3 separate regions of the Homo sapiens genome follow, and all the other regions are reported to be linked to region 2. Evidence: microRNA targets listed by miRTarBase, many of them from high-throughput screens and not tested one by one. Region 2 holds a microRNA gene; each other region holds the end of a gene's coding sequence.
Evidence for each region. Region 2 holds the annotated microRNA hsa-miR-3922-3p (UCUGGCCUUGACUUGACUCUUU, at 2,427-2,448, opposite strand). A microRNA usually pairs through its seed, bases 2 to 8, with sites in the 3' UTR of a target mRNA and lowers its output. Matches are read on the target gene's strand: a 7mer-m8 pairs with bases 2 to 8, a 7mer-A1 pairs with bases 2 to 7 and ends in A, and an 8mer does both.

Region 1 (4,243 bases), not on the chromosome of region 2:
TGTGAGCCACTGCGCCCAGCTGGCACTCATATTTTAAAGTAAACATTTCAGTAATCACAGTCACATTTGTTTTGTTTTACTCGCCCATCTGTCTGGCTTGACTTCAGATATGGAGTTGAATTTTGATGCTTCTCAGCCTGCAAAAAGTCAAATGCTGATTCTTTATTTGATTTTACTACTGTTATAGGCAACAAGATTGACCTGGCTGAAAGGAGAGAGGTTTCCCAGCAGCGAGCTGAAGAATTCTCAGAAGCTCAGGACATGTATTATCTGGAGACCTCAGCCAAGGAATCTGATAATGTGGAGAAACTCTTCCTTGACTTAGCATGCCGACTCATCAGTGAAGCCAGACAGAACACACTTGTGAACAATGTATCCTCACCCTTACCTGGAGAAGGGAAAAGCATCAGCTATTTGACTTGTTGTAATTTCAACTAAAGGCTGAGGCACGGAGAAGAAAAGGAATCAGCAACTGCCCTGATGGGCCATGAGATGCTGGGGAGATCTGGCGATGACTGTGGCTCCCGCTCTCTGACCTTCTGACTCCTGTGGGCTCCTGAGCTTACAAAGCATGGCAGGCCAAGGGCCTCGACCACAGGCCAGCATTAGCAGAACATATAATGGTTTCACCCTTTTCCAGTCTGGAGTTGGAGCAAGGAGAAAATTGCACTAGGCACTCCATGATCTGCAGAGCATGTTGCTTTTGTTTTTTTAAAAAGCAAGTAAAAGCGCATTCCTAAACAGAGTCCGGGGGGAAATGTACTGTAGGGATCCCTCCTGCACATCAGTGGGTGCATGTGGGAACTCTTCTTTAGGGCTTCGGTGGTAATCATCTGGGGGCCCTGGTTTTCTTGTCTACCAGATAAACCAAAACTGGGAAGGCCAAGTACAGTCTCTGTGGTGCGTATTGACGACCCCATGGAGATTTTGAAAAGTGTTATTTCTCTTGTCCACAGGCACTTTCAAGAACTTTGGGATGTAAAAATGAAATGAAACCTTTACCCATGACCAACAGTAACAATCATTGTTTTAATAATATATACAAGCTCCATAACTCCTTTTGGTGCTAATGATTCCGCTATTTCACAGACCAAACGTTTTAGTACATTAATGTCCTTAAATGTGTTATATAGAAATAAAAAAATGGGGGAAGTCCATGAATCAGCACTCTTTCTCAAAGTCTCATTACTACCTTTTTAAAGGTGGATTTTTGGGAAAAGAGAATACTTTTCCTTTTATGTTCCCCTCTGAATCTCTACCACTTTCTTGTCTCTCCAGCCCTTTATGTAAATGAAAACGTTTGCAAAATGAAAAAAATAAACAAATGGTTGATGACATTCTAATATAAAAACTTAGCTCTAACACATTTTGAGTAGTATGAGGAAACAGACCAGATATGACCAAAATACTGTGGATTAATGGACTGTAGTGCAGGGCTCCTAGCAGAGCACAGTCCTTGATAGTAGGTCACATCTTTTACTTCCTGGTACTCTCCATCTTGGACAGACCAAGGCTTAGGATTTTGTAGATTTTTTAGTATGATAAGTGAGAATAGCAACAGATGAAAAGTCTCACGACCCATTTTTATATCTTCGATGATAACCTTAGAAAAATTCTGCTCGTGGAAGCAGATTGAACTGTCATTTATCCCCTCCTTCTTGTAATAATGTTACCTTCAGACGCTTAACCATATGTTCTTTCTTTTTTCTTTCTCTTTTCCTCTCTATTTTTCTGGTCTCTCCTTTTCTTCTTCCCTCCCTCCCTCCCTCCTTCCCTCCCATCCTTATATGCCTGTGTTACTGCAAATCTCCAATTCAAATGGAGGTGTATATGCCTTTACTTAGCCAATTTAAAAACAGGACTCAAAATGGGAGATGTGCTGCTGAATATGTGTTTCTTTTTCTTCAGTGCCATACTTTGATAGCTTCCAATTTGTTCACTGATATAAATGCAAATTGGGAAAATAATTAAACCTGTATGCTGTTGATGCTGTCAGATGTTTCTGTAGCTTGCTGCTTAGCATAACTGAGGGATGAGTAATGGAATAAGGATATGATGTGTAATTCCACTGTTGCTGTAGATGGTGACAATCTCAGTTCTGATATGTTGATGTTTGAAAGCTATTTAATTGTAAAGAAATTAGTCATGTAGAGACATGATGTGGATAAAGCATTTCTGGCATTTCTCTAGCAGGTTCTAGATTGACCAGTGTCTTGCACATGAGATTATGCATATTTTTTAAGGGGCTGATACTTTTGGTTGGCCTCACTGTGTTTTTCCTGATCCTGTGGGAAAGAGAAAGGCATCCCAGAAGTTTGACTTGTTTTTCTTTTAGAATCTGTCTCTGCAGGAAAGAAAAGTCATTTTAATAAAAACCAAAATAATTTATAATAATTGTTGCCTTTCCCTCCCCATCCTCTCCACTAAGCCAGCAACTAAATGTATTCAGAAAACAAGTTAATCAAGGAGGGCAGAAGAATTTTTTTTAAACTGTAAGAAAATGTTCCTAAGTTTAGATTTATTACCTGTCATTTAGGGCAAAAATCCAGTGTCCCCAGCACATGATGACCCAACTTTGTCTCACAGTTGCAAGTGTGTTGAAAATAAAGTTGCTTTGTGAACTTAGAGGAAATGGCTGTGTTAGATTGGACTGATTTAGTTGCAAAATAATACCTTTTAGGGTCACACTTGTATTATTCCCTAGGGTTTAGCCTTCTCTATATACCCTTGGCCAGACTCAGAAGGGGATTAAAAAGCTCTGGTCTTGGCCTCTATCTTCCTTGTTGCTCCTCCCAGCCTTTCCATAACTTACCCATCCACAGCCCATCAGCAGGAACACATGAGAATGTGGGACTTTGTTTCTTTTTTTCTTAGTTGTATGAATTCCAGATTAGGCCTTATGGATACTTGTCTACTAATATATCTGAAGTTTGAAAACAATCCCTGACAATATTGTAGGTGCAATAAATATTAGTCAAATAAACATTTAAGTGCCAAGGTGGGGTGGTAGTGGTTGGGGGAGCTTTTTTTGATTAAACAGAAATTCCTTCAAGTAGAACTTGAGAAAGGACACTAAATACAGTCATCTTAACCCAGGCCAGAACCTAAATTTATTGGTTTGCCTAACAGTCTTATTGTCATGGCAATATTTGCTAAGATGAGCCTTCTTTAGATAAAAATGAACTCTCATTTAGTGGTGGATGAAAAAAGAGAAATTGCTTTATCATATAGTTTAATTTGGCTCGGTCTACTAAGACCACCAGGGTTGATGTATTCCTCCATTTTTGGTGTGATCTTTTTCTTCATTCAATAAAGTTATTAAATATATGGCAAAACTTTTTTCAGTTTCCAGTGAAAATGCATGATACTCATGTCATGGAGTCAGGCTTGGGAAAATCTATGAAATAATAGTTTGCTGATAATGATATTTTCTTATGGCTTTGTATAGACTACATCCTCAAAGGATTTTGTGCTTCTTTGCCCATAGAAGGCTTTTTCTCCCTTTGTGTGCTTTTATTAAATCTGTTGAATTATATTAATATTTTTTGAATTTACAGGGCCAATTATCTTTTTTGATGGATTACTTAGATTAGGCCATGGGTTCTTCCTGGCCTTTCTTTTTCTCGGTCTTTTAATCATTTCACGTTTTTATCTCTCCCTGAGTAAAGTGGCAAGAAAACTAAAAATGAAAGTTAAATGGGTTGATTTGACAATGTGTCAAGTTCTGATTTAGAGTTTATAAGGAAGGTAGAAACGATTGGCCAAAATAAGATATTTGGATGAGGATTATTTAAGCCGTTTAGATTTGGCCAGAGACGCCAGATTTAGCAAAGGACTGGGTTCTTATCTTCTTTCATTCATGAATATATGCCTTGGGAGGACACTGGTGATTCCCACAGAATTAGGCCAATGATTTGCCACATTACCCTTTAAGCTAGCCCATAATTCCACCAGATCCCACACCAAGTTTCAGTTCATGACTCATACTGAATAAACGTCAGTTGTAAATGATGTTTGAATTGGTCTTCCTACTAAAGTGAAACATCTTCTTTTAAGCCAAGCCACATGAATGAAATAGCACAATCAGAAAAAAATCTTTTTTTTTTTTTTTGCATATCAAACCAATGGCCTTCTCCACTAAGCCAGCAACTAAAGGTATTCAGAAAACAAGTTAATCAAGGTGGGCAGAACTTTTTGAACTGTGAGGAAATGTTCCTAAGTTTAGATTTATTACCTGTCATTT
Region 2 (4,243 bases):
TCCACTGCCTAAGTGCTCCGTGCATAGCAGGTACTCGGTATGTTTGTGTCAAATGAATAAAAACAACAGATCAAGTGATCTGAGGACTTAACCAAAGATATTCTACTAAAGGGTATCAGACCAAATGACTTACTAATAGCAAATGAACAAAGAAGAGGAGTTAGCATGTTCTCTCCTGAAAAATTCTTCTCAAAGTGCCAATGCTTCCTCAAAGTGGTTTAATTACCTTAGCCAAAGTAGTTAAATCAAAAAGAAAAATTAATATGATATGCTGTCGTGGTGCTGTGATGTGCCTTAAATGAACTCTCCAAGACCCAGTAAACATGAGCCTTCATTACTGTCTCTCTCTATTACTTACCACCAGCCAGGAGGTAGGTCGTATCACACCCATTTTACAGACAAGGAAGCTGAGGCTCAAAGAAGTTAAGGACTGACCCAGCGACATAGCTAGTGAATGTCAGAGTTGGGATTCAAACCCACAAACCAGCATGCTTTCCCCCACTCCTGGGAAATGGGACATGTCACAGCTTACAGATGTTTGGGACTGATAGAGACCAAGCAAATAGGCAGTCCCAAATGTTGACCCGATATCCTCCCACCAATCAGGCCTTCAGGAGCTTTACAAAACATTCAGCACGCTTGTATTCACAACTGACTTTTCAGGAGCCTCGAAACAGTGAGGTGAAAATAGGGTTCAGCCTAACCTGTCATTCATGCCATTATCAAACTTAAGTTTTCCAACTTCCCATTCCTTCCCTCACCCAGTCCCTCCCACAGGGACAATTCAGAGCCATTAAAACCATTCCCAAATCTCTCTCTCCTTACTGGAGACCCTATAAGCAAATTCACTGAAGAATACTGAGGGATTTGGGGTTGATTTGATTTGAGAATAATCTGAACCTATATCATAGCCATTCCCGTGTTGGCCTCTCCTACTCCAGCTCCTCAAAGCAAGAGCCCCTCCCGACGCCCAGCCTGTAGAAGGTGGTTGTAGAACTAAAGTGAATTAAACTTGGCATATGAAGGTCAAGGGAGTAAATCTAAGAATTACGTGAATGTGCTTGGTATAGCTTGGGAAAAGATGCAGCTTCATCCAAGAGCCGTGAGATTTACTGACATGGAAGCCTTCCAGTGGGGACTCTAATACTCAGCTTTGAAGAATATAGTGTATACATTAAAATATTTACCGGCCAGGAGAAGAACTGGGTCACCAAATGGAGTCCCCCAAACCAATGGCCCCAGCAGCCAACCCATTCCCTCTTTTAGAGAATTCTGGCCCATCTGCAGAAACATGCCCAGACAGCATGCCTACTTCCGAAAGTATAAGATCCCTGTCCAAGTACAAATCAGTTGTCAACCTGACAGGTTAGTGCACCATCAGGCACATCTAAGACAAAAAGGGCCCTTTAGAGACCACCTAGTCCAATGACTTTCACAGAAGGAAAGAGAATGAATCTACGTGGTTAGGGAAAGTATCCTCAAAACTGATTCTGACTGAGCAAGAGAAATGGCAGGACGCAAAGTGCTATAATCTGGATGTTTGTGTCCCCACTAAAATTCATGTTAAAATATTAACCCCCAAGATAATCATTTTAGAGGGTGGGGACTTTGGAAGGTGATTTGGTCATGGGGGTAGAGCCCTCTTAAATGGAATTAGTGCCCTTATAAAAGACGTCCCAAAAAAGACCACTTACCCCCTCCACCATGTGAGGACATAGCAAGAAGGGACTGTCTATGAACCAGAAAGCAGGGCCTCACCAGACACCAAATCTGCCAATGCTTTGGTCTTGGACTTCCCAGCCTCCAGAACTGTGAGGAATAAATTTCTGTTGTGTATAAGCCACCCAGTTTATGGTATTTTGTTGTAGCACCCTGAACAGATTAAGACACAAACCTCAAACATAATCCTCCTGGCCAGTGGGGTATGCTGCCCACCCACTGAGAGCATGAGAGACGGGAAGGGAGAAGAGAGAAAGGGAGAGTAAGGGAGAGAAGGGGAAGGGAGGAGAGGAGATGGGAGGGGAGAGGAGGGGAGAAGAGGGGAGGGGAGGGGAGGAGGTGCCAGGTATTAAAAGATTAAACCACCTCATCCCTAACCCCATTTTGCAGGTAAAGAAATGGACGTGCAGGATAGAAGGTGATCTGTCCAAGGACACACTGCTGGCTATAGGCCGAGTTGCAGCTAAAATGAAGATCTCCTGATTCCTGGCCTCATCCCTTTCTCTTTTTGCATGTGATTTACATACAAATATATATAGAAAACCGAGACAAGTTTTATTTTAAAAGTACTATCCTTACTATGTGTGACAAACTAACATTTTCTATTGTTCTTTTATGAACTACTAGTCACAACTCATTAAATCCATTTTACAACACACCCGTGGGTCATGGTGCATGCTTTGAAAACGTCTGACTCAGATATCTGGAAAGAGTCAAGTCAAGGCCAGAAGTCCCACAGGTGTGCTTTCCAGCCCTGCTGTGGGACCTCTGGCCTTGACTTGACTCTTCCTTTAAGTTCAATTTGAGGGTGCTTATGAATGGAATATGTTAAACATTGATAAAGAGAACTCATGGCTTCCACAGCTAAAATTTCCCTCCCACAATGTTCACCATCACAGTGGATGCCACCATCATGCCCCTAGCTGTGACCAAACAGTGAGGAATTTTCTTAAATTCCCTTTTCTGTCTGCTATGCCCCACCCATCAGCATGTCTCTGTCCTCACCGCCCTGGTACAAGCCATCATCGCCTTCCCCTTGGGCTATGACAAAAACCTCTTAACTGGTATCCCTGCTGCCACCCTGGCCTCCCTACTCTATTCTCTACCAGCGGCCAGAATAATCTTCTAGAAACGTAAATCAGATCATAACAGCCTTCCTGCTCCAAAGACCTGCCACCATCTTAGAACAAAATCCAAAGTCTTTCCACGGCCCAGAGGCCCCCCATGATATAGCCCCGCCTGCCTCTGCCCCTCCTCCACCATACTGGTCATCTTGCTCTTTCTCCAAAAAACCAAGCATGAGCCTCAGGGCCTTTGCACTCACTGCTCTGTCAGCCTGGAGTCCCTCTCCCAACACCAACAACTGTTCTCTTCTTTACTCTGCCCTCTGACCGCATCATCAGGTCCCCAGAGAGAGCTTCCCTGGACACACTGTCTCCCATGGCCTCACTTCCTCTCTCTCCTGTTCCTCCCATTCTTTGCTATATTCTTTTTTTTTTTTAAGACAGGGTCTCGTTCTCTCACCCAGGCTGGAGTAAAGTGGTGCGATATTGGCTCACTGCAACCCCCACCTCCCATGTTCGAGCAATTCTTGTGCCTCAGCCTCCCAAGTAGCTGGGATTACAGGCGTGTGCCACCATGTCCAGCTAATTTTTGGCATTTTTAAGTACACAGGGTTTCACCATGTTGGCCAGGCTGGTCTTGAACTCCTGGCTTCAAGTGATCTGCCCGCCTCAGTCTCCCAAAGTGCTGGGATTACAGGCATGAGCCACTGCGCCCCGCCTGCCATATGCTTCTTCAAGGCATTGATTCTCTCCTGTCTTTTTATCTTAAATGCTTTATTGGCTGTTGTCTGTTGCCACCACGAGACCCTAAGTTTCATGAGCAAAAGGACTTGGACTGTCTTGTCTATCACAATATCCTCGGTTCCTAAAAGGGGCCTAAATTCAGGGCTGAATGAATAAATGAATGAATGGAAGTGCCTTTCCCAAAAGACAGGAAACTAAACCGTTTTGAAATACAGTCACCCCAGTCCAAGGTCTTCTAAACTTTCCTGATAAGAGTCATCCGAGGTACTTATTTAAAAAACATATATTCCCAGCCCTTCTGAATCAGATTCTCCTACAAAGGGGCCTGGGAAGCTTCAAGCTTGATGAGCACCCCAGGGGATTTGTATCTTGGAAGAGTCTGGGGATGCTGGATCAGCTAGACATGAGGAACAGGTGCGCACATAGACAGCGCACGTGCAGGCCATCTGGAGAAGAGGAGGGGGAGAAACTGTGCCAGATGGGGCCAACGAGGCCAGGGGCCTGGGTGTAGGTACTTACAAGGGTCATGCGGCACCTAATAGCCAAGGGACGGGCCAGCTAGGGTGAGGCATCTTCATTTATTTATTTATTTATTTATTTAATTTTGAGACAGAGTCTCGCTTTGTTGCCCAGGCTGGAGTGCAGTGGCGCCATCTTGGCTCACTGCAGCCTCCTCCTCCCGGATTCAAGCAATTCTCCTGCCTCAGCCTCCCGAG
Region 3 (4,243 bases), not on the chromosome of region 2:
GCTGGGAGAGCATCTGAAAGAATGGTCTGGAAGAATGAAGGTGATTGTCTAGGAAGGGGCAGAGGAGACAGAGCACCAGCAGGGTCCAGGAAGACAGGGAGCACTCAAACAGAGGCTGGCATAGAGGGAGCATTCTCCAGACAGATGGAAAGAGCACTATTGGGAAGAGAGCTGGAAGCACTTTGAAGAAGGAGGATGGAGGAACGTATTCTGTCATGGGTCCTGGGAAGGTGGAAGGACTCGCAGAAAGGGGCTGGCTGTAAGGAAGGAGAGGGCATACAGAGGAGGGTCAGGAATGGATGGAGCACTCTCTGAAGGAGGTGGAAGACTTGAGGAACATTCTCAGAAGGCAACTGGGTGAGGAGTCCCAACCAGCCCCATCTTGTCTCTCTGGCCCACAGGCCCTGTGCTTTGGAGTCCTGGGAGTCCTCTTCATGGCCGTCAGTCTAGGCTTTATGTTTGCCAACTGGGCCACAGGCCAGAGCCGCATGTCTGGACACTGATCAGGCCCTGCTGGCCCAGGTCCCTGTGCGCATGCACATGGAGGGGTCAGGGCCGCTCCCTAGGGTCCCTCCTGCCCAACATGTGGAGGTGGCTGGTTCCCATGAACGTGGTTGTCAGAGGCGGGGGACAGCAGAGGCTGCAGACTGGCCCACTTCCCTCCTCCCCAGGGATGCCAAGCTTGGATCATGGCCCTAATCCCAACCCCAACCCCATGGGAGGAGGAGGAGGAGGAAGAAGAGGAGGAGGAGGAGGAGGAGGAGGAGGAGGAGGAGGCCAGGTCCTGGTGGAGCCTTTGCCCAGCCCAGTCCTCTCTGCCTCCTCCTGGCTGAAGCTGTTTGTCAGGATTACCCTCGGGCTAAAGAGGAAAAATAAAGATGTTGAGCTACCACTCTGGACTCAGCCTTCTGATCTTTCTCTTAGTCTTGCTGGGGGAGCCTGCCGGAGTCCAGGCTGGAGCAAACTGAAGCCCTGCGAGTGGGACTGTGCCTGATCATGCATTCATTCACTTCACTCTTTCAGTAACTTGCTACTCAACTTAATATTTCACCCACTTGGCCAGGAGCAGTGACTCACGCCTGTAATCCCAGCACTTTGGGAGGTTGAGGCCGGCGGATCACTTGAAATCACAAGTTTGAGACCAGCCTGGCCACCATGGCAAAACCCCGTCTCTACTAAAAAATACTAAAATTAACTGGGTGTGGTGGTGCACGCTATAGTCCCAGCTACTTGGGAGGCTAAGGCGGGAGAATCGCTTGAACCCAGGAGGCGGAGGTTGCAGTGAGCCGAGATTGTGCCACTGTACTCCAGCCTGGGCGACAGAGTGAGACTCCATCTCACACACAGAAAAAGACTTCACTCATTCACTCGGTAAACATCTCCTGAAAGCCTACTGGGTGCCAGGCACTATTCTAGGTGCTGGGGATATAGCAGTGAACCAAGCAGACAATAGTGCCCTGGAGTTGATGTTCTGACACACGAGTGGGCAAATCCATCCTGCTGCCTATTTTGGTATGGCCCTTGAACTAAGACTGGCTTTCATATTTCTAAATGATTGAAAAAAGGTGGATCCAGCATGGTGGCTTATGCCTGTAATCACCAGCACTTTGGGAGTCTGAGGCAGGAGGATCATTTGAGAGCAGCCTGGGCAACACGGCAAGACCCCATCTCTACAAAAAATATTAAAAGAAATAGCCGGGTGTGATAGTGCAAGCCTATAGTCCCAGCTACTTGGGAGACTGAGGTGGGAGGATCGCTTCAGCCCGGGAGATTGAGGGTGCAGTGAGCTATGATCACGCCACTGCACTCTAGCCTGAGTGACAGAGTGAGACCCTGTCTCAAAAAGAAAAGGGGCTGGGTGTGGTGGCTCATGCCTGTAATCCTAGCACTTTGGGAGGCCGACGCGGGCAGATCACCTGAGGTAAGGAGTTCTAGACCAGCCTGGCCAACGTGGTGAAACCCCGTTTCTACTAAAAATACAAAAATCAGCCAGGCATGGTGGCACGCGCCTGTAATCCCAGCTACTCAGGAGGCTGAGGCAGGAGAATCGCTTGAACTTGGGAGTCAGAGGTTGCAGTGAGCCAAGATCTCACCACTGCACTCCAGCCTCTGTCTCAAAAAAAAGAAAAGAAAATGAAAAAATATTATTAAAAGAAATAATATTCTGTGACACTTGGAAATTATGTGAAATTCAAATTTCAGTGTCTAAATCATTTACATATCAATTTCAGTGTCTAAATTATTTACATATCATTTACAGTGTCTTCTTCATTTACATATTGTTTGTGGCTTTCTCGTGCAGAGCTGAGGATTTGCAACAGAGACCATATGGCCTGCAAAGCCTGAGCTATTAACTCTCTGGCCCTTTTCAGAAAATGTTAGCTGACCTCTGACCTAACAAAGAGAATAAAAGAGAAATCATTCCTCATAAAGATGGTGCAATGAAGAAAATGAGCGATGTGAGAGTGGTGTGGGGAGGTGGTGGGTGAGGAGGCATTCAGCGAGACTTCACTAAGGAGGGGGCAATGAATTTGGTCCTAGGTTGGCTGAAAGGAGCAAGCCTCATGGTTATTTTGGCAAAGGGTGTTCCAGGCAGAGGGAGCAACAGGTGCAAGGGCCCCGAGGTAGGAACGAGCATGGCTGGTCCAAGCAAGAGCAAGGAGAAGCTAGCATGAGTATGTGAGTGCCATTTTCACCACAGCCTTGTCAACAGCCTGAGCAATGCAACAGATTTTTGTCAACCTCATAGAAAAAATGGTATTGCCATTACACTTCACATACGTGTGTGTGTGTGTGTGTGTGTGTGTGTGTGTGTATTTCTAATTCTTTAATTTTTAATTTTTAACTGTTTTTGAGACAGGGTCTTGCTCTGTCATCCAGGCTGGAGTGCAGTGGTGCCATCACGGCTCACTGAAGCTTTAGCCTCCCAGGCTCAAGCTATCCTCCTGCCTCAGCCTTCTGAGTAGCTGGGACTACAGGCATGCGCCACTATGCCTGGATAATTTTTAAAATTTTCAGTAGAAATGAGATCTCTCTATGTTGCCTAGGCTGGTCTCAAACTCTTGGGCTCAAGTGATCCTCCCACCTTGGCCTCCCAAAGTGCTCGGATTACAGGCATGAGCCGTATTTATGAAATAAGGTTTTTTTTTTTTTTTTTTGGCAGGGTTTCACTGTCATCCAGCCTGGAGTACAGTAGTGAGATCACAGCTCACTGCAACCTCAACTTCCCGGGTTCAAGTGATTCTCTTACCTCAGCCTCCCAAGTAGCTGGGACCACAGGCATATGCCACCACACCCGGCTTATTTTATTTTATTTTATTTTATTTTATTTTATTTTTTAGATGAAGTCTTGCTCTTGTCTCCCAGGCTGGAGTGCAATGGCACGATCTCGGATCAGTGCAACCTCTGTTCCCCGGGTTCAAGTGATTCTCTTGCCTCAGCCTCCCGAGTAGCTGGGACTACAGATGTGTGCCACCACACCTGGCTAATTTTTTGTATTTTTAGTAGAAACGGGGTTTCACCATGTTAGTCAGGATGGTCTCGATCTCCCGACCTCGTGATCCACCTCCCGACCTCGTGATCCGCCTGCCTCAGCCTCCCAAAGTGCTAGGATTACAGGTGTGAGCCACTGCGCCCGGCCTTTTTTGTATTTTTTTGTAGAGACGGGGTCTCACCATGTTGCCCAAGCTGGTCTCGAATTCCTGGGCTCAAGTGATCCACCCATCTCGGCCTCCCAAATTGCTGAGATTATAGGCATGAAGCACCGCACCCAGCCTGAAGGAAGCTTTTAGATGTTTGAGAGACATTTGCTTATCCTCCCAGATAATTTTTACGCATTTATAAGCTACTACACATATATATTATTTCCCTGCTTCTATTTACAAATAGGGCAGTTGTCTGTAGTTGATTAATACTATATGCTCCTTGTTTCACTGTTCTTTATCCCTTACTGCCACTAAACTTAAGCTCAACAAGCCATTCTTTTTGAGAATAACGGTAGCCTGAAATTCCAGCACCTGGCCTTCAAACTGCAAGTCTTGGCTGGGCACGATGACTCATGCTTGTAATCCCAGCACTTTGGGAGGCCAAGGCAAGAGGATGACTTGAGGCCAGGAATTTGAGACCAACCTGGGCAACATAATGAGATCCTGTCCCTAAGTTTTTTTTTTAATTAGCTGGGCATGGTGGTGTGCACCTGCAGTCTCAGCTACTCAGGGAGGCTGGGGTGGGAGAATTGCTTGAA

Region 1: miRTarBase lists RAB30 as a target of hsa-miR-3922-3p. Seed matches in the 3' UTR shown: 7mer-m8 at 597-603, 7mer-A1 at 2,730-2,736, 8mer at 3,095-3,102 and 7mer-A1 at 3,808-3,814.
Region 3: miRTarBase lists SLC38A5 as a target of hsa-miR-3922-3p. Seed matches in the 3' UTR shown: 7mer-m8 at 775-781.

Annotation. Positions count from the first base shown.
Region 1 is chr11:82,978,360-82,982,602 of GRCh38, reverse strand. RAB30 (RAB30, member RAS oncogene family) reads left to right here. Exons shown (of 5, transcript NM_001286060.2): 5 at 188-4,243. The coding sequence ends at 438. Among named protein-coding and RNA genes, the nearest start is that of SNORA70E, 61 kb to the left of the region's middle.
Region 2 is chr12:104,589,899-104,594,141 of GRCh38, reverse strand. It overlaps MIR3922 (microRNA 3922), which reads right to left and starts at 2,509; the gene lies at 2,426-2,509. All of the region lies in intron 1 of CHST11 (carbohydrate sulfotransferase 11), which reads right to left.
Region 3 is chrX:48,455,193-48,459,435 of GRCh38, reverse strand. It overlaps SLC38A5 (solute carrier family 38 member 5), which reads left to right. Exons shown (of 17, transcript NM_033518.4): 17 at 402-892. The coding sequence ends at 503. Among named protein-coding and RNA genes, the nearest start is that of SLC38A5, 13 kb to the left of the region's middle.